Regions from separate parts of the Homo sapiens genome. Here region 2 is linked to region 1. Evidence: fine-mapped expression QTL. A gene starts in region 1. The other region holds a variant in brackets. All regions are shown on one strand. Distances are between the middles of the regions.

The links. PIP is the estimated chance that this variant, and not a neighbour inherited with it, causes the effect.
Region 2: its variant is fine-mapped to the expression of FASTKD5 in tibial nerve (GTEx, PIP 0.94).

The regions. Positions count from the first base shown.
Region 1 is chr20:3,153,729-3,165,452 of GRCh38, forward strand. FASTKD5 (FAST kinase domains 5) reads right to left here and starts at 6,137. Exons shown (of 2, transcript NM_021826.5): 1 at 6,038-6,137. UBOX5 (U-box domain containing 5) reads right to left here and starts at 6,137. Exons shown (of 5, transcript NM_014948.4): 1 at 6,038-6,137. LZTS3 (leucine zipper tumor suppressor family member 3) reads right to left here. Exons shown (of 5, transcript NM_001365618.1): 5 at 8,889-11,424. The coding sequence ends at 10,726.
Region 2 is chr20:3,107,441-3,115,440 of GRCh38, forward strand. UBOX5 (U-box domain containing 5) reads right to left here. Exons shown (of 5, transcript NM_014948.4): 4 at 7,865-8,000; 5 at 133-2,874. The coding sequence ends at 2,666. It overlaps UBOX5-AS1 (UBOX5 antisense RNA 1), which reads left to right. Exons shown (of 7, transcript NR_038395.1): 1 at 1-131; 2 at 2,035-2,310; 3 at 2,838-3,013; 4 at 3,192-3,277; 5 at 4,204-4,312. Among named protein-coding and RNA genes, the nearest start is that of UBOX5-AS1, 4.5 kb to the left of the region's middle. The variant T/C (reference allele first, on the strand shown) is at 3,184.

The sequences.
Region 1 (11,724 bases):
TCACTACGGTTTATACTGCAAGTTGAGTATCCCTTGTCCAAAATGCTTGAGACCAGAAGTGTTTCAGATTTTAAACTTTTTCAGTTTTTGGACTATGTGCTTTATACTGACCAGTGAGCATTCCAAATTCAAAAATCCAAAATCTGAAATACTCCAATCATTTTTTTTTCCTTTGAGTATCATGTTGGTGCTCAAAAAGTTTCAGATTTTGGAGCATTTTGCATTTTGGAGTTTCAGGTTTGGAATGCTCAACCTGTACTTTAAAAAAGAACAAAGAGAAGACCTCAAAGGCTGAAATCTACATGAGGCAAAGAGTTCGCAGGATGCTCCAGGATCAAAGTAAGGAGAGCTACCACAATTGAAGACCTGAAAGTTGGCAGTAGAGATATGGGATCCAGAAACTAGGGTTCAATACAGAGAAGCAAAGGGAAATCCCAGGAAAAAGGTGAAGGAAGATCCCAGGACAAGAGCTGTGAACAGACATAAAGAGCAACCAGCTCATGCTGGACGACATAGACAGTACCCAGGAGAGGAGAATCATACTTCTACCGGATAATCCGGGCATGAACAAGAGATAAGGATACAAAAAGCCATGCTAATAAAAACAGTAACAAAAATTATTAATGCCAGGGAAGACAAAAAAGTTATACAAGATAGAATATGTTACCACAGGCAGGATGCAATGGCCCATTCCTGTAATCATAGTACTCTGGGAGGCCAAAGTGAGAAGATCACTTGAGGCCGGGAGTTTGAGACCAGCCTGGGCAATGTAGTGAGACCCCCACCTCTACAAAATATTTAGAAATTAGCCAAGCCTGGTGGCACACACCTGTGGTCCTAGCTACTCAGGAGGTAGAAGTGGGAAGGTTGCTTGAGCCCAAAAAGTTAAGGCTGCAGTGAGCTGTGATCCTGCTATGGCAGGGTGACAGAGAGAGACCCTATCTCAAAAAATAAATAAATAAATAAAAAGAGTAAAGAAAATATTAGTATATCATACTCCCTATTCAGTTGAGAATAATACTAACATAATTTTATTAATATAAATCTTGATATTAGCCTAACCAAAAATTATGAGCAAACTATATTGGGAGGATAAAGTGAGTAAGAGGAGGAGTAGGGGGAGGTTGATGATACAAGAGACCTAGAGCCTCAAAGTCCATAATAAAGAAGTACAATTGGACAGGTGTGGTGGCTCACAACTGTAATCCCAATATTTTGGGAGGCTGAGGCAGGAGGATCACTTGAACCCAGGAGGCAGAGGTTGCAGTGAACCAAGATCGTGCCACTGCACTCCAGCCTGGGCGACAGAGCAAGACACAGTCTCAAAAAAAAAAAAAAAAAAAAGAAAAGAAAAGAAAAGAAAAAATAAATATAGTGATGGCCAGGATCAGTGAGTGGCTCACACCTGTAATCCCAGCACTTTGGGAAGCTGAGGTGGGCGGATTGCTTTAGGCCAGGAGTTCTAGACCAGCCTGGGTAACATGGTGAAACCCTGTCTCTACTAAAAATACAAAAAGTAGGCTGGGCACAGCGGCTCAAGTCTGTAATCCCAGCACTTTGGAAGGCTGAGGCAGGAGGATCACCTGAGGTCAGGAGTTTGAGACCAGCCTGGCCAACGTGGCGAAACCACGTCTCTCCTAAAAATACAAAAAATTAGCCAGGCATGGTGGCAGGCACCTGTAATCTCAGCTACTCAGAAGGCCGAGGCAGGAGAATCACTTGAACCCGCGAGGCAGAGGTTGTGGTGAGGCGAGGTCGCACCACTGCACTCCAGTCTGGGCAACAGAGCGAAACTCCATCTCAAAAAAAAAAAGTGGGTCGGGAGAGGAAACTATTATTTAGTGTTACAAGCTCTACTGAACTATTTGACTGTTTAAACCATGTACATGTACAATTTTGACAAAAATTAAATTAAAAAATCCATGTATTATGAAGATATTATGGTATTGTTCAAGATAATGAATGGAGAAAGTAGCTTAATAGATAAGGAAAATGTTGAAAAGTTATTTTTAGTGCAAGCACTTTCTACTACCTAAGAACTTCTTTAAAGATGTTCAATAACAGAAATGATAACAAAATAAGGAATCTTAGAGGCATGAAGAGCCAACCTACAAATGGTAAACAGTGGCTACTTACTCTTTTCACTATGCAACATTTACAGTAACTCTATAGAAACTGTATCTACATACACAGGTCTGAAACAGAGGACTTCAGAAGTTGGTCTTGAGTACTGTGGAGAAGGAAAGAAAAACAAGGAAGATACAGAAGCAGCAGAGAAGAACAGTAGGGAGAAAAGACACTGCAAAGAAGCAGCAGTCAGGATGACCAGATAGCGAAAACATACCTGAGAAGGTTAGTTCCTCCTTACTCAAAGACTCTCAGAAAATCCATAGGAAAGCTGGAAAGAGAACACTATGAGATGCTCAGTCAATTAACTTCTGACTCTTTTTTTTTTTTTTTTTTTTGAGACAGAGTCTTGCTCTGTTGCCCAGGCTGGAGTGCAGTGGCGTGATCTCAGCTCACTGCAACCTCTGCATCCCGGGTTTAAGTAATTCTCCTGCCTCAGCCTCCCAAGTAGCTGAGACTAAAGGCTCACGCCAACATGCCCACCTAATTTTTTTGTATTTTTTGGTAGAGACGGGGTTTTGCCATGTTGGTCAGGCTGGTCTCAAACTCCTGGCCTCAAGTGATCCACCTGCCTTGGCCTCCCAAAGTACTGAGTACAGGCAGGAGCCACCACGCCCGGCCTGACTCTTTCAATAAAGGTCAAAGATACCTGATATGATTTCACAAAACTCCTTTCCTAGTTTAAGTGCCCCAAGTATACCTTTCTCCCCTTTAGGGGTCCTAACGAAACAGAGTAGAGCCTCAGACACTCCTGGACCCTGTCAGTTCCAAAAGGCAATGCCCAAACCTCCCTGAATGATGTGATTTCACAGGACTGAAGAATCTTACCTTTCTCCCTTCCACATACCGGTCTGAGCAGAGCCGAATAGCTTCATTTTAAACTAGAGTCTAGAAGTTAGAGGAGGGGGGCCAGGCAGAGGAAGGAGCGATGCTAACTGTAGACTGAGTATAAGACACCTTAAACACATACAATTTACCACTTACCAGATCTGATCCCTCAATTCTAACACTTTTCCTTTCTATGTCCCAATAAAATTGCCACAAATAAATGAACACTCCAACCCTATTCTTGTCTCAGCAAATAATTTGTTGAGCAACCTTAAGAATTAAAAAGGCAAAAAAACTGGCTAGACAGGTGGCTCATGACCATAATCCCAGCACTTTGGAAGGCCGAGCAGGCAGATCACGTGAGGCCAGGAGTTCAAGACCAGTCTGGGCTACATGGCGAGACCCTGTCTCTACCAAAAAAAAAGGGCAAAAAAACCGAACTTTCTCTAGGTGCTGAGGTATTCTGCTGAGAATCTACAAAACTTCAAAGCCCCTAGTGAGGGCTTAGAGACTGGCAGTAAGGACCTTAGCTGTTAATGTGGATGTTAACTGGGCTAGACTCTTCTGTGTTTCTGTTTCCACACGGGAGCAGGGCCTCAGAGAGGAGTCTACCAGTACTGCGAAGGTGAAGCACTAGTGCAAAGGTGTTTAGGTCAAGTTCAGTGTCACTCGCAGGTCTAAGCCAAACTAAAATTATTCAGTCTAGCAATCCATCCCTTCCTTTTTGTTCTAGACTCCATGCTGATAGGAGAAAAACAGCACATCACAAACATTTGTGAAACTTTTTCAGCTACACAGCCCTTCCGCTTCTCTTTTAAGACTCTGCTATTCCTCTATCAGAATGGCAAGAAGGATGTGGGTAGATATAGTATGACTAAGCCCTGTAGATGATTCTGTTAGAGCTACTGCTTTTAAAGGGTTTCATAAAACCCTGTCTTTAGAAAACCTCTCCATATAACAACAGGCAGTAGGCACTCATGTCCTCTCAGCCCATCTAAATGGGGCTTCTAGAGGAATTACAAAATCCAGGCAGGTAAAGAGAAGTAGCTGCATGCACACAGTCGTCATAAGAGAAAATTCCCAAATAAATGGTCCAAGTACCTATAACTGTTAGCTCAATAAACACTTGGTTTTATCTGCTTTTACAATTTGCAAGGCTGTATAGAGGCTGTATAGTACATACTTCAGACAAATAAAGAAGGAGTTTCAGAATTCTTTTGTTTTTTTTTTCAGACAGGGTCTCGCTCTGTTGTTCAGTCTGGAGGGCAGTGGTGCAATCTCCGCTCACTGCATCCTCGACCACTGCCCCCCACCTCTCACCCCGGCAACCTCCCGGGCGAGGATCGCTCAAGGATCTCAAACGATCCTCCCACCTCAGCCTCCTAAGTAGCTTGGACTACAAGCCCACCACCACGCCTGGCTACATTTTGTTTTTTTGTGTGTTTTTTTTGTTTTTTGTTTTTTTCGTAGAGACAGAGTTTCCCTATGTTGCCCCCAGGTTGGTCTCGAACTCCTGGGCTCAAGTAATCCTTCCACTTCGGCCTCCCAAAGTGCTGGGATTACAGGCATGAGCCACCGCACCTGACCTTAGAATTATTTTATATCAAAGTTGACTTATTCACATGATGAATGGCAAGGCCTTATTAGGGACTAAAAAAATAAACCAATGGATGGGGAAGAAAATCATACTGACTAATAAACATTAGACCTGCATAACTGCCAAAGGCCTCACTTTTTAAGTTATGTTATGCAGCACAGAGTCTTCAGATTTTATTTACTTATTTATTTATTTATTTATTCATTTATTTGAGACGGACTCTCGCTCTCTCGCCCAGGCTGGAGTGCAGTGGCGCGATCTCGGCTCACTGCACACTCCGCCTCCCGGGGTTCACGCCACGCTCCTGCCTCAGCCTCCAGAGTAGCTGGGACTACAGGCGCCCGCCACCACGCCCAGCTATTTTTTTGTATTTTTAGTAGAGACGGGGTTTCACCATATTAGCCAAGATGGTCTCGATCTCCTGACCTCGTGATCCGCCCGCCTTGACCTCCCAAAGTGCTGGGATTACAGGCGTGAGCCACTGTGTCCGGCCCAGATTTTATTTTAGTCTACCAGGTAGTAGCAAACTATCCAAGGACTTGCCCAGGACCATTCAGGTCAGTGAGCTACAGAATCTAGTTCTGGAAAGGCAGCCATTCTTACTATTCACAAAGTGTAGAAAACGTGAATTCAGATTCCAGCAGCAACAAATGACTGGAGCACAAAACGCCAGCCACAGTTGGTGCTAACGCAGCTGGCTATCAGCTCCACAGGATGAAGCACTGTCCAAGGGTCTGATCAGTGAAGCATCACCCAAGACTGATGAACACAGCTGATATGAGGGGACCCAAAGTTCCCTGAGTCAAGACAGAAGAGCTGTGTCACGGTTTGCACAGAAAGAGAAAGAGCAACTATTCTTACCCACGGAAAGAAAAAGGGAGAAGGCCATCAATACTACCCTTAGGCTTGTGCAACGAGAAACTGCTAAAAATGGGGGGAAGGTATATATCCTATCATACTGATGTTTACCGAAGACTCCGCATCCCAAATGCTAAGCAACATACTGTAGGGCCTTGCTACTCAGTGTGTGGTCTGCGTGCCAGAGGCTTCAGCCTCGTCTGGAATCTAGTTAGGAACACAGTTATCTCAGAACCCACCCCAGTCCTACAGAATCAGAATCTCTAAGCGATTCGCAGGCACATCAAAGTGTGATGAGAGGCGCGGCAGAATATCTGACTACATTCTCTTAACAGCACCGTGAGACAAGTACTGTTACGATCTCCATTTCACAGAGGAAAAAAAATCAAGGGTCAGATAAGCCCCCTGCCAAAGATCACAAACTCAGGAGCGGCGAGAGTCACTGAAGTTCTCACCACAGCCAGGCCTGCGAGAGGCACTGGCAACCCAGGCCAAGAGCTGAACAAGGCCTCGATGCGCTCCAGCTCTGGGCCGGCCGGGAGGACAGGAGGCACAGGCCAAGGCCCAGGACGGTCGTGAACGCGGAAAGAGGCCGCCGCGACCTCCTCCCCGGCCGCCGCCACTCACCTGATCCTCCCGAAGGTGGGCGCCGCAACACCAAACCGGGGACGCCGCGGGCGGCGGCGACACAGATACTGGCTCCTCCGGCGACTCCGAGCCTCACAGCCCCACTTCCGGCCAACTGCCCGCTACTTCCGCCTGCTGCGCGAGTGACGGATGCGGCCGAGGCTCAAAAGACTCTGTCAGCGTTTCCCAAGGACATTTTCCACTGGAGGACGTTGTTGAGGAGGCAGGGGGAGTCTAGGACCTGCAGAGGGAAAACACCTTCCTGGATGGATCGCTCTGGAAGTCATTAAGCAGCTTAGTCCCGGCGCGGTGGCTCACGCCTGTAATCCCAGTACTTTGGGAGGCCAAGGCGGGCGGATCACCTGAGTTCAGGAGTTCGAGACCAGCCTGGCTAACGTGGTGAAACCCCCGTCTCTACTAAAAATACAAAAATTAGCCGGGCGTGGTGGCGCACGCCTATAATCCAGCTATTCAGGAAGCGGAAGCAGGAGAGTCGCTTGAACCCGGGAGGCGGAGGTTGCAGTGAGCCGATATCTCGCCACTGTACTCCAGTCTGGGCACCCCTGTACTCCAGCTCTGGGACACAGAGCGAGACTCCATCTAAAAAAAAAAAAAAAAAAAAAAAAGTAAGTAGCTTAGACACATGTTCAAATCTGAGGACCACCACTCAGGGTTTTATGGCCTTGGAGAAGTCACATAAATTCATTCTTGTTATATTATTATTATTATTTTCATAGAGACGGGGATGGCAGTGTCTTCCTATGTTGCCCAGGCTAGTCTCGAACTCCTGGGCTCATGCAATACTGCCGCCTCAGCCTCCGAAAGTACTGGGATTACAGGTATGAGCCATCGCACCCGGCCCACATAAATTCTCTAAGCCTGTACAGTGAGAAAAACAATACATTTTTTTTTTTTTTGAGACAAAGTCTTGCCCCATTGCCCAGGCTGGGGTGCAATGGTGCAATCATGGCTCACTGCAGCCTCAACCTCCTGGGTTCAAGTGATCCTCCTGCCTCAGCCTCCTGAGTAGCTAAGACCACAGGCATGCACCACCACACCTGTCTAATTTTAACAATGCATTGGTCGGGTGTGGTGGCTCACACCTGTAATCCCCGGTGTTGGAGACCGGCCTGGCCAACATGGTGAAACCTCGTCTCTACTAAAAATACAAAAAAAAATTAGCGGGGCATGGTGGCGTGCACCTGTAACCCCAGCTACTTGGGAGGCTAAGGCAGGAGAATCACTTGAACGCAGGAGGTAGAGGTTGCAGTGAGCCGAGATTGCACCACTGCACTCCAGCCGGGGCAACAGTGAGACTCCATCTTTTTTTTTTTTTAATGCATTTATAATAGAGATGTATCTGTAAAGTGCTCTCAGGAAAAGAGCTAGTGACATGATGGATAGATGAGCCTGCTGAGAGAAATGGATGTGGAGCTGGGGCTTAGCGAGGCCAGAGCTATGGAGCATGAGCCAGGGTGATTCTCCACCACCCTAAGAAGGAGGGCTGGGTCCTACTGGGTACATATATTGACACAGCTGTCAGTATAGGTACCTAGACAAGAAAGAGACTCTACTAAACCTCTACCTATCAGAAAGTCCTGGCCCCAGGCTGCCATTCCTGAGGGCACTTGAGATCTGCTGATCAGGGTCTTCATATCTTGTCAATGCCTTGGCTCTAAGGGGTGTGAAGGAGAGCTGAGAAATCATGCTCCCTCCAGGGCCTATCTTGTAGGGAAGACAAAATCAATGTAGGAAGAACACGTCCCTGCCAGGAGGGGCAAGCCTGACATCCCAACTCCTGAGCTCTGGAGACAGCGCTGTTTGAATATCTGGAGCCCCAGACCACAGACACCACTGCTTAGGGAGGGTTCTCTCCCTCAGGCCAGACCAGGGCAAACACTATTCATTGTTATGACTCTGTCCTTGCCAGTAGAACCCAGAGAAAGCAGAGAGCCTGCCCCCAAGGAATGAACCATGTTTGTTCCTAGGCAGCCATGACAATCCTGTTTCTCTTTGTAATACTCAAATTCCCATTCTCCCTTGAAGTGGGAGGAGCATGTGGCTCAGTTCTGGCCAACAGGACTTAAAGGGAAGGGTCCTGGGAGGGCTCTGGGAAAGCTTTTACTTTTCATGATAAAGTAGGGCCGCCTCAATGTCTTCATGGAGCTGTGGCAGCCACTTTGTGGTAAGGAGGGAACAACATGCCAAGGATGGAACAGTGGGAGGATGAAAATCTAGGTCCCCGAGGATCCAACAACCATGACACCACCTCCGGATTTCTTGTCAGGTTGGGGAAAAATAAACCACTCTTTGAGGTCCTTTGATTACTTACAGCAGAGTGCATTCTTGATTGTGTGCTTTGAGAGGATGACAGAGGAACTGTTGTAAAGGGAAGCTCTCTGCTGTGCAGCACGCTTGGGTCCCTTTTGCCTTTGGGGCTTCGCCATTAATTGCAAACCTGTTCCCAGTCTTCACTTCTATCCATTCAGCCCGCAAACATCTACCAGTTGCTGTAAGGTGGCTTAGGCGACTGCAGGCTGCATCTAGCTGTCCTGCGTCACCTGTTTTCTGGCTAGCAGCTTAGTGTCCAGATTCTGAGCTGGAGCCAGCTTTTAACCCCTTTGGCAACAGTCTGAGCTGAAGAGAAAGCCCCACTGGGCATATACATGGCACCACGACTCTTCCCGGGCAACGTGGCAGAACTTGGGCTTTGGGCCAACCTCCTAGCACGGCCCAGTGAGCACCTCCAGTCTCATGCCTCCTCTGGGAAATCTGTTTACTCCAGCTTTGCCCCCATCCCCCACCCGGGCCTCACCTCCCGCACCTGCAAAGACACAAGCAGGCCAAAGAATACCACTCAAGAGGCTTTTTCCGTTTTATTTCTTTGGGAAAGGAAAACAAAAAGTCTTTCCATCACATATGGTAGAGATATATATTTATATATATTTATATATAATTTCTTTTGTGGTTGGACGTCCCAAAGCTGAGTCTGTTCATATTTTTTTCTATTTTTTTCTTACTAATGCCTTCTCTTCTCCCTGCCCCTGTGGCCTAGGCCCAGGTTCTAGGGCAGGTACAGTGAGGGGTGAATGGAATGGGCAGTGGTCGCCAGGATGGCCTCCCACCCAGCTCAGAGACCTGGTGAGGACCACCCAGAAGGGCTGTGCAGAGGGTTAGAGGCCACACAGAGGGGCACTCATGTTTTTGTGGGGGATGCACAGCTCATTAAACAGTCACCAGTCATGGGAGGAGGCTGGTCAGGGGCTAGGGGACTTGCTCACAGTAGTTGCCAGCTCTCTCCACCTTGCCCCCCAAAACTCAGTCTTGGGGGTGGGAGGAAGAGAGTGAAAAAGAGAGAGATATAAGGGCTGAGGGCCAAGCCTCCTCCAATTTTTATTGCTGGTGAATTAGAAATTTGCTTTTCCCTTCCTGTCTTGGGGAGATAGACTCTGAGAGGGCCCCAAGAGAAGCAGCTGACATTGGCTGACCTAACCCCTCATGCCAGGCCTACCCTGGGCAGGTGCTGAGCCACCTCAGGGCGCCAGGAACCTCTCAGGTCAGCCTTGTTCTTCAAGGGCAATCACATCCAACTCTCCCCCCGCCCCCAAAACAAGGGCCTCCGGCTCAGACTTGGGCCAGTGGAGCTGGGAAGTGGGCAGTGCACCAAAGGTCAAGCGGAATTTTCTATTGGAAGAAAAGGTGAGACTTTGGGGAAGAGACTGCCTAGGAAGATGATGTGCTGAGCATGAAAGCAGAAAGAGGCTGGGGGAATAGAGTGCGGGAAGACATCGCAGACACTCGTCTGACCTCAGAAACTGGGCGAGGAGAGTGCCTGAGAGGCAGGTAGCACTTAATAGCTGTGTTAGAGCCGGACAGTGGTCCTGGGTGTGGGGTCAGCCAAGCAGATGGGGCTGTTGCCCTGCGGGATCCTGGCCAGAAGGGTGAGGGTAGAGCCGAGAAGCCGTCAGGCAACGCTTCCCAAGAACAGGAGGACAGATCTTCCCTGGGTGCTGGACTTCCAGCCCCAGTCCTCCCCTCCCGCAACACACACACAGGGACACACACTCACAACCAGGCCAGGCTCTGAGGCCTGAGTCCAAGAGATCTTGTTGGGGGAGGGGCTGGGCAGGTAGCCCTCTCAGCCAAAGGCAGGCCATCTGCTCCCACTTGTCCTGCCAATCTGCCCAGGGAGGGAGAGCACTGTAGGAGGGAGAGAGGTCTGGAGCCCAGGCTCTGTCAGTTTCAGCAAACCTGGTGCAGGCCCCCTCAGGCTCCATGGCCTAGGAGGTGAGCACAGAGAGCATCACTAGACACAGGGTGGCCAACAGTAGCAGCCCAGGCCTCCAGAAGGACTGGGGCACCTTATGGCACTGCACGTCTGCTGCCTCCATCTCCAACAAGGGGGTGCCGAGAAAGGGAGCATGACTCCCCCACCACCTAGGATTGCCCCCACTCACCCTGCCCTCCTCCTATTCCCTCCTTTTAGGGGGGTCCAAGTGGGCTGCCACGGGGGCAGTGCTGGAGCTAGGAGGGCAGGTGGGGAGGGAGGAACCTGGTCACAGCTGCTTAGAGAACCTCTTTGGTCTGGGGTTATGGGGTCTATGGGGAAGAGAGATGGAGGGGAGGGGACACTGGGGACTCTGGCCTTTTGACAGGACATGTGTCAAAATGCCGAGTGCCCAGGTCGATCAGATTTCTGTGGACTCAATGCGCTCGAGGCGGGAGGGGGTCCAGGCCTTCTTCTCCTCGCCATGCTGGGGAGTGGGCGTGCTTGCACCCCCTGCGGCCCCGCGCTCCCGCAGCCTGCGCTCCAGCTGCTGGTTGCGCTGGTACATCTCCACGTAGCTCAGCTGCAGCTGCTTCTGGTACTCGATCACCTTCTCCTTCTCCTCCAGCCACACGCGGCGCTCCTCGGCGAAGCTGGCACCCTGGCGCTCCCGGGCCCGCCGCTCAGCCGCCAGCTCGGCCTGCAGCCGCCCCACCTCCCGCCGCAGGGCCCGCGTCCCGCTCTCCCCGCCAGCCTCCGCCTCCCCGTCCACGGAAACCAAGGAGGCGGCAGCGGCCACCCCGGCCTGACGGCGCATCTTAGCCTCGTCGCTCTCGCAGGTGGCCAGAGCATCCTGTGGCTCGGCCGGGTCCACGGGGGTCAGCGCCGGCTTGAGGCAGGCGGCAGGCAGCTCGCCTTCGCCCAGCTCCAGGCTGGCCTGCTTGCTGCTGAAGGAGTCCCGCAGGCTGAGCAGCTGCTCCTCCTTCTCCCGCAGCGAAGCCCGGCCCTCCCGCAGCTGCGAGCGCAGTCCCACGATCTCACTCAACTTCTGCGACACATCCGCCTGCGAGTCCTTCAGCTGCTGCTTCAGGAGGGAGATCTCGCCAGCCTTCTGGCACACCTGGGCAGGAACAGGTGAGAGGAGAAGCCAGGTAAAGGCAGAGCTCTGCTCACCCCAACCCAGCTACCAGATCTGGAGCCAGGGGCACCAAGCTTCCCGGGGCTGCAGGCTCAGCCCCTCATCAGCAGCGACGCACCCGATTCCCTGCCTGGACTCAAGATGGACATGTCTCACCCAGCGGATGGCCTCGGGTCCTCACAGACACTCCCAATTGATTTTTGTCCCCCCTGCTCCTTTCATCCCCCCCCCCATCCCACCGTTATGATAGTGAGGGGCAACTGCTCTGGGGTTTCCCAGAGG
Region 2 (8,000 bases), 48 kb before region 1:
GGGCAGCAGGGCCACAGCAAGGCTCTGAGGTCCTGAGTCTTCTCCGTCCGTGGACTTAAACTCTGCGTGTTTACAGCTGTTCTGTGCCTGGGTCCAGGCTCTAGTGAGAAATAAACTGCCTTCAGAGCCAGGTGACAGCAAAAGAAATTTTATTCCCATTTTCTAGGGGACAGAAACAGAGCCCAGTGGTGCCTAGCATGTTTCTGGCAAGGGTAGTGAAAAGACCACTTCCTTTTGGGGGAAGTCTTTCAATTAAGAAAAACACACGCAACTCCTGGGGGTGGCTCCACCTGTACCCAGGACAGGGCCTGCCACTCCAGGGGCTCCCAGGCTGGATTTTCCACCAGAGCAGTCTTGGGGGCAGGAGCCTGTTAGAAATGCAGATCCCCAGGGACCTGCAGCGGTCTGGGCAGTACCTCCAACACAGCTGCTTAAGGGGAGGCAGTCCGGCCCTCATCTGGGAGCGCCGTGCTGACGCTGACTGCACGCTAGGGCTCTCGGGGTTGGGTGGACAGGGTTTCTCCGAGAGATGGGCTCCCAGCAGCCAGAGCACACTGTGGGTGTCAAGCTGCTGGTGGGAAGCAGGCTGTTCCCTGAGACCATGACAGGGTGAAGGTGGGAATCACCAGCCCCCACACTCACCAAGAAATGCTTTTGCTACATGCTGGGGCTTTTTTCTTTTTTTGAGAGGGAGTCTCACTCCGTCGCCCAGGCTGGAGTACAGTGGTGAGATCTCGGCTCACTGCAACCTCTGCCTCCCCGGTTCAAGCGATTCTCATGCCTCAGCCTCCTGAGTAGCTGGCATTACAGGCACACACCACCATGCCCAGCTAATTTTTGTATTTTTAGTAGAGATGGGGTTTTGCCATGTTGGCCAGGCTGGTCTCGAACTCTTGACCTCAAGTGATCCACCCACCTTGGCCTCCCAAAGTGCTGGGATAATAGGCATGAGCCACCATGCCCGGCCATGCTGGGGCTTTTCTAAGAACACAAGCACACCGGAGGGTAAGACAAGATTCTGGAGAGGCACAGACCCAGAAAGCCAGGGGCACACAGGAGCCTCGCCAGCGAGGGCGGCACAGGCCATCCATGCGGACCCTCAAATCTCATGTGAAGGCTGCATCAAGGTCAGTGCCAAGAGGAAGCAGAGCAAAGCATGTGACCACCTCTCTGAAGCCATCTTTGTGGACAAATGATGTAGGAACTCAAAAAAATGCAGGCTTGGCTAGGCGAAGTGGCTCATGCCTGCAATCCAAGCACTTTGGGAGGATCGCTTGAGCCCAGGAGTTTGAGACCAGTCTGGACAACATAGCAAGACCTTGTCTCTACAAAAAATAAAAAAATTAGCTGGGCATGGTGGCACATGCCTATAGTTCCTGCTACCTGGGAGGCTGAGGTAGAAGGATCCCTTAAGCCCAGGAGTTCGAGGCTGCAATGAGTTATGATTGCACCACTGCCCTCAAGCTTGGGCAACAGAGACCAACCCTGTCTCAATTAAAAAAAAAAAAAAAAAAGCAACTAACCCCAAACCCAGATCTCTAAAGTATTGGGTGTGGACTAGAGCTCTGGACGGCCTAAAGGAAAGGAATGTGCCGGTTCACAGGGACCCGCGGCTAAGCTCAAGGGTAAAATACAGCTTTACAAAGCATCTTTAGGCTGTTCCTTCCCAAACGTGCTTAGAAGGGAACAGGGAAAGGCGGGTGTGTTTTCTCACTGAGGTTCTTCTAGTGGCTGGAATCTGATAGAGTACCAAGTTGTAGGGATATGGATATATTTTCCCTTTGGCACTCCATAAAGCTAAATGTTGGGCTGAAAAAAGGATGCAGCCTATAAACAAGTATTTTTCCTGAAACCAACTGCATGAGGAAACGCTGCGCTCCCCCTCAGGGAGCAGTTTCTGAAGCCAGCTGAGCACAGCTGGCACTGGCCAGAGGGAGCCCTCCACCCTCCCACCACGTATGCCCACCTGCAAACCTGGGTTCTGAGTCCCCATGCAGGGGACAGACCTGAAAATTCCAGTTTGTGTCCTTTCAGGTCATCGACAGGAATGACAGCCTGGCAAGCTGCAGTGACTGCACACAGCTACCCTGTGAGCTCCACTTGTGTGGGTGCAGGTGGGCGACAGGAGTGTGTGACACAGACAGGCACTCCACCAGGAGGAAACCCACAGCAGACGTCAACCATCGCTTTATTAAGGCTGCGAGTCGGGGGGCTGAGTCATGCACTCCACAGACACCCCCACTGCTCCCAAGGTCCACTTTTGGATGACCCTGAAGGCAGAGACTCCTGAGATCTGGGCCACAATCTAGGGTGAGCCACCCACAGTGCCCTGCTGGACAGGGGGGTATGCGGACTGCACGGGGGGGCCCTCAGCAGGGGTCTTCCTGCCTAGGGTGGGGCTGGCTCCAGTGGGTCCTGGGCTCAGGCAGGGGGGGTGGCAGGGAGGCAGGGACATCCCCCCGCCCTCTGGCCTATGGCTTTGTTGCCCTATTGCCACCAGCGCAGAAGCAATGTGCTATACCGTGAGGTGATGAAGAAGAGCCCCGGGAGGGAGCAGGCAGCTCTGTGCCTGGGGCCTGGCCAGACCTCAGGGGTGCTGTGGCCCTGCTCCTGTTCCCCCTCAGCTCCTCCCAGCAATGGGTCTCCTCCAGTGGAGGTCAGTCACTCAGAAGTGGACCCGCAGCACGTCTTGGCTAGCAACCGGCCGCTGGCAGGCTGTGCACGTCATGGGCAGGGAGCGTTGCTTCTCACCCAGGCAGGGTCGGCACAGGAGGTGGCCGCAGGGCAGCTGGTACACCGGCTCCTTTTTGAAGTAGGGAGAAAATACTCTTTTGCAGGAGGCACATTCGGGGCCCAGGATGCTCCCAGGCTGCTCTGGTAAATCAGGAAGGAAAACAGGCCAGGGTTAGGAAAGCTGCTCCATGGTCCAGGCTGCTCTGAGGGGCAGAGCCTTCCCACCGTGCTGCTGCAGCATCTGGCTTCATCCCTCCCGAGTCCATCCCAGTCTGATCAGGTAGGGGAGTGGAAGCGGGAGAGGGAGCCTGGGAACCCGGGAGGCCTCTTCTCTATCATCTTTGACCAAATCTCAGTGCCTCTACGAATGCTTGAGAAGAGCTGGCTTCTGAGGGCAGCAGGCAGGACTGGGCCCTTCCTCCTGGTCTCCCAGCAAGGTTTACTTTCCCC[T/C]GCGATAGGTGGCCAAGGCTGGAGCAAGGCACAGCTCACTCTGACAAGATAAACTGCAAGAAATGTGAGAGGCGACAAGAGAAGGAAAAGGCAGGTCAGTGGGGTGGCTCAAGCCTGTAATCCCAGCATTTTGGGAGGTTGAGACAGGAGGATCACTTGAAGCCAGGAGTTCGAGACCAGCCTGGGCAACATAGTGAGATACTGTCTCTACAAAAAAGAAAAAAAAAAAAAAAGGAAAAGCAGCACATGGTCCAGTGCACCAAGGTTGGGGAAGTGTGAGAAGGGAGGTCAGCAGAGACAAGGCTGAGGCCTGCAGTGCACCTGCCACTGGGGCCTAGCTCCTGCTCCCTTCAGCCCTGCAGCCTGCAGCCCCCTCACTGCTACTGGCAGCCCTGCTCCTGACTCCTCAGTCCCCCTCCTGTGCTGCCCTGGCCCTCTCGGCAGGCTCTCCCTTCTTCCGCAACTCCTTCAGGGCATCCTTGAATGAGGGTCACAGTGAGCAGCTCTGGCCATGCCCCACCAGGCTGCACCCACGGCTCTTCCTTTCCTCATGGCCCCTCTGGAGAGTGACAGGGGATGGGCTTGCCTGTCCTCCTTGTGGTCCATGTCTCCATTCCTAGCCACTACTCTCTGGAGGACCCCAAAGGAACCTCAAACCAATTTGCTTCAGAATTGTTTCTTAACCCCCCTTCTCTCTGTCCATTTCATCACCATAATCCAGGCCGCTCGACACATCTCTTCCTAACTATTCACCTGCTCCAGGCTTGTCTTCTCAATCTGTCCTCAAAGCTGCCTCCAATGACCCACCTATGTAACTTGACCACCCCATAACTCTGCTTTCTACCTCTTAGGAGCTTCCCAACTTTCGGGACAGTCAAGACTCCCTGCACGGCCCACCCAGCCTCCTCACCTCTCTTCACACCAGTCTCAACTTTTAGAGTCCAGCAGCTTCCAATCACTTCTTTGCACACTCTGCGCTGCTGGCCTCCTCACTTTGTGCTTGCTGTTCCCTCTGCCTAGAATGCCCTTATCTGGAGACCTGGCTTAGACCACACCCATTCCATGACGCCACCCCGGATTGCCCCTTTCCTGTGCTTTCAGAGCCCACCAGCCCTTCTCAGCCTCCAAGGTAGGATGCCTACTTCCTCCCCAGGCTTTGCAGGTCCTGAGGGTCAGGACTATGTCCATGTTTCTCATCCGGCCTCAGGACCTGGCGCAGCACCTCACAGGGCAAGTGCTCCATCCACATGTGATGAATGGACCTGCCATCTACACTCGGGCACCAGGCACCAAAGAAGGGAGGGCAGGGGTGCCCTACACGGGGAGCAGGAACTGAAGTGTTCCTGCCTCCGCATCCCTGAGAACTGTAGCCAGGAAAGAGTGGCCTGGCTGCGGGTGTTTTCTTTGGGCCAAACATTAAGCAACATAAAAGTACCGGGTGCCTCTCCTGTGCACACAAGCCAAAAATTCCCCAGTGAGTGGAAAGTTGAACCTCTACAGGGAAGGGAAGGAGGGAGGAATGAAGGTGGGGAGGGAGGGGGGAAAGAAGGGAGGGGAGGAAGCAGGAGGAAAGAGCCACTGACTGCTTTTCAGTGGTGCCCCTTTCATGCAGGCTCTGCCAGAGGCTTCAGAGATCTGCCTGACCCACAGTGCATGATGAGAATTTATTTTCCATCAGTTTTAAAAAGCACACCTGGCACAACACCACAGAAGCATGCAAGGGCCCCAATTGCCCCCAGCACTGACCAGAAGTCCCATTAAAAGATCTCAGAGGCCCAGAGCCCCAGGGGCAGTTTCAGTGACAGAAAAAAAAAAAAAAAAATCATCAAGGAAAAGACAATTATTGTGCCCTGGGCAGGATGGAAACCCAAGTATATAACTGCAAACTGAGGTGACAGAGAGGATAAAAAAGAGGGCTTGCTTTGAAAAGGGTGGGCTAACATGGCCTCCTGTAGGAAGAGCTGTGAGAATAAAAAGGGGCCAGCCACACAGAATGAAAGGAGAGCAAGCACAAAGAACAGCCTATCCGTTAAAGAAAAAGACACAGTGGTCGGGCACGGTGGCTCACACCTGTAATCCCAGTGTAATCCCAGCACTCTGGGAGGCCGAGGTGGGTGGATCACCTGAGGTCAGGAGTTCGAGACCAGCCTGACCAACATAGCGAAACCCCGTTTCTAACTAAAAATACAAAAATTAGCCGGGCGTGGTGGCGGGCGCCTGTAGCCCCAGCTACTCAGAAGGCTGAGACAGGAGGATTGCTTGAACCAGGGAGAAAGAGGTTGCAGTGAGCCAGGATTGTGCCACTGCACTCCAGCCTGGGCGACAGAGCGAGACTCCATCTCAAAAAGAAAAGAAAAAGACACAGTGAAGCTGGGTGCAGAGGCTCACACCTGTAATCCCAGCACTTTGGGAAGCTGAGGCAGGTAGATCACCTGAGGTCAGGAGTTCGAGACCAGCCTGGCCAACATGGCGAAACGCTGTCTCTACTAAATATACAAAAAAAAAAAAAAAAAATTAGCTGGGCTTGGTGGCGTTTGCCTGTAATCCCAGCTACTAGTGGGGGCTGAGACAGGAAGATTGCTTGAACCCAGGAAGTGGAGGTTGCAGTGAGCCGAGATTGCGCCATTGTACTCTAGCCCGGGCAACAGAGCGAAACAGAGCAAGACTCTGTCTCAAAAAAAAAAAAAAAAAAAAGACACAGTGAGAGTGGGCTTCAGATAAGACTGCAGAGGAGGAGACATGGGGGCTCCAGCAGGCAGGACCTCAGAGGGAGTAGGAGTTGAGGTTTTATCCTAAGTTCAGGGGATGCCATGGTAGGATTTGAAGAAGTGGAGCATGGTGATGGGCTGACATGATAAAAAGATCCAACTGCTATGAGTATGATGAGCCACAGTAAGGCGAGGATGGGGGGATACCAGCAGGGGCTACTGCAGGAGTCTGGGAGTGAGGCAGTGGGAGCTGCAGCCAGGGGAGGGGCCACAGAAGGAGAGCAGGGGACTAACCTGAGGTCACCTTGGGGGAGGATGGACAGGACCTGATAATGAACAGAATGTCAGGATGGGGACACTGAAGGAACTCGAGAATGACTTCTGTGTTAGAAGCCTCACCACAAGACAGAAGATGCTGCCCTTACCCAGGTAGGATGATGGGGGCAGTGAGGGGGAAAAGCTCTGGAGGGCAGATGTGAGCAGTACAGAGTCTGAATGTTTCCTTTAGAGAGGATGCTGAGCCTGGCCATGATGGCTCATGCCTGTATTCCCAGCACTTTGGGAGGCCGAGGCAGATGGATCACCTGAGGTCAGGAGTTCAAAACCAGCCTGGCCAACATGGTGAAACCCCATCTCTACTAAAAATACAAAAATTAGCTGGGCGTGGTGGCGGGTGCCTGTAATCCCAGCTACTTGGGAGGCTGAGGCAGGAGAATCACTTGAACCTAGGAGGCGGAAGTTGCAGTGAGCTGAAATCGCGCCATCGCACTCCAGCTAGGGCAACAGGGGCAAGACTCCATCTTAAAAAAAGAAAAAAGAGAGAGGATGTTGAGTGCTGTCAGGGCGGCAGGATGAGTTCCAAGGAGAAGCAGGAGCTACAGGGGAACATGGACAGTTGCCGGAGATGTGAGTTTTCACTTGGGTAACAGAGAATATTGAGATTAGAGAGTCCAGGGCCAGAGCTGGTAGAGAAGGCAATTGGCAATGGAAACTGAAGAGGGACCACCGAAGATAGGAGAAAAGAAGCAAAACAGCCTAAAAGCCAAGAGAGAAGGCGTTTCGCACAGCAGGAGCTCCATCTCGTAAAAAATGCCTCCCGTTGCAATCAGTTTCTGTTGCTTTGTATCCTAATAGATTCTGGCATACAATGGGGGTCAAGGTTCATTTTAGGCAAAATTGGCCCATAAGCTGCCACTGCTCTTTCTAAGACACTGACGGAAGTGTTAATCTGAAGGGATGAGGACGACAAACCCAACCAAACCTCTCTTCACATTTACATAAAGTGCCCCGGATGTCAGACTGCAGACTGGCTAGATGAGAAAAAAATAACAAAAAAGGCCAGGCGCGGTGGCTCACTCCTGTAATCTCAGCGCTTTGCGAGGCCGAGGCGGGCGGATCACGAGGTCGGGAGTTCGAGACCAGCCTGGCAACATGGTGAAACCCCGTCTCTACTAAAAATACAAAAAATTAGCCGGGCATGGTGGCGGGCGCCTGTAATCCCAGCTACTCAGGAGGCTGAGGCAGGAGAATAGCTTGAATCCAGGAGGCGGAGGTTGCAGTGAGCTGAGACTGTGCCACTGCACTCCAGCCTGGGCAACAGGGCGAGATGCAGTCTCAAATAAATAAATAAATAACAAACAAAAAAAAGAGAAACAAAAATCCTCAGGAGAAAATAATTAACATTAGATCTCACAAGGAAACACATCAGAGGGTGGCCAAGCCCTACATCCACAGAATTACTAAGGATTGACTAAAGAAAGCCTTTCTTGTGGGGAGTTTAAGTTCATAGGCAGCCCCTCAACTACCCCTGGAAAAGGCAAGAGAACAGGTTCTCTCCCAGGGTGGGTGTTGGAACTGACGGGGAGGCTGGCCAGGCAGGTCCACAGAGCCCCCAGGGACTCGGCCCAGCATCCAGAGACAGAAAACAGACCACCCATTCCAAGGCTCCAAGGAGATGGCGGGGCCCATGTTACCCGAGCCGGTGCCAGGCCTCCAGGAAGTGTTGCTCCCTCTTGTGCCAAGGTGCTGGAGCTGTCCCCTGGTCAGCCGTGCCGTGAAGGAGGGCATAGAGCCAAGGGTGGATGCCAAGGCAATTTCCAAGCTTTGTGA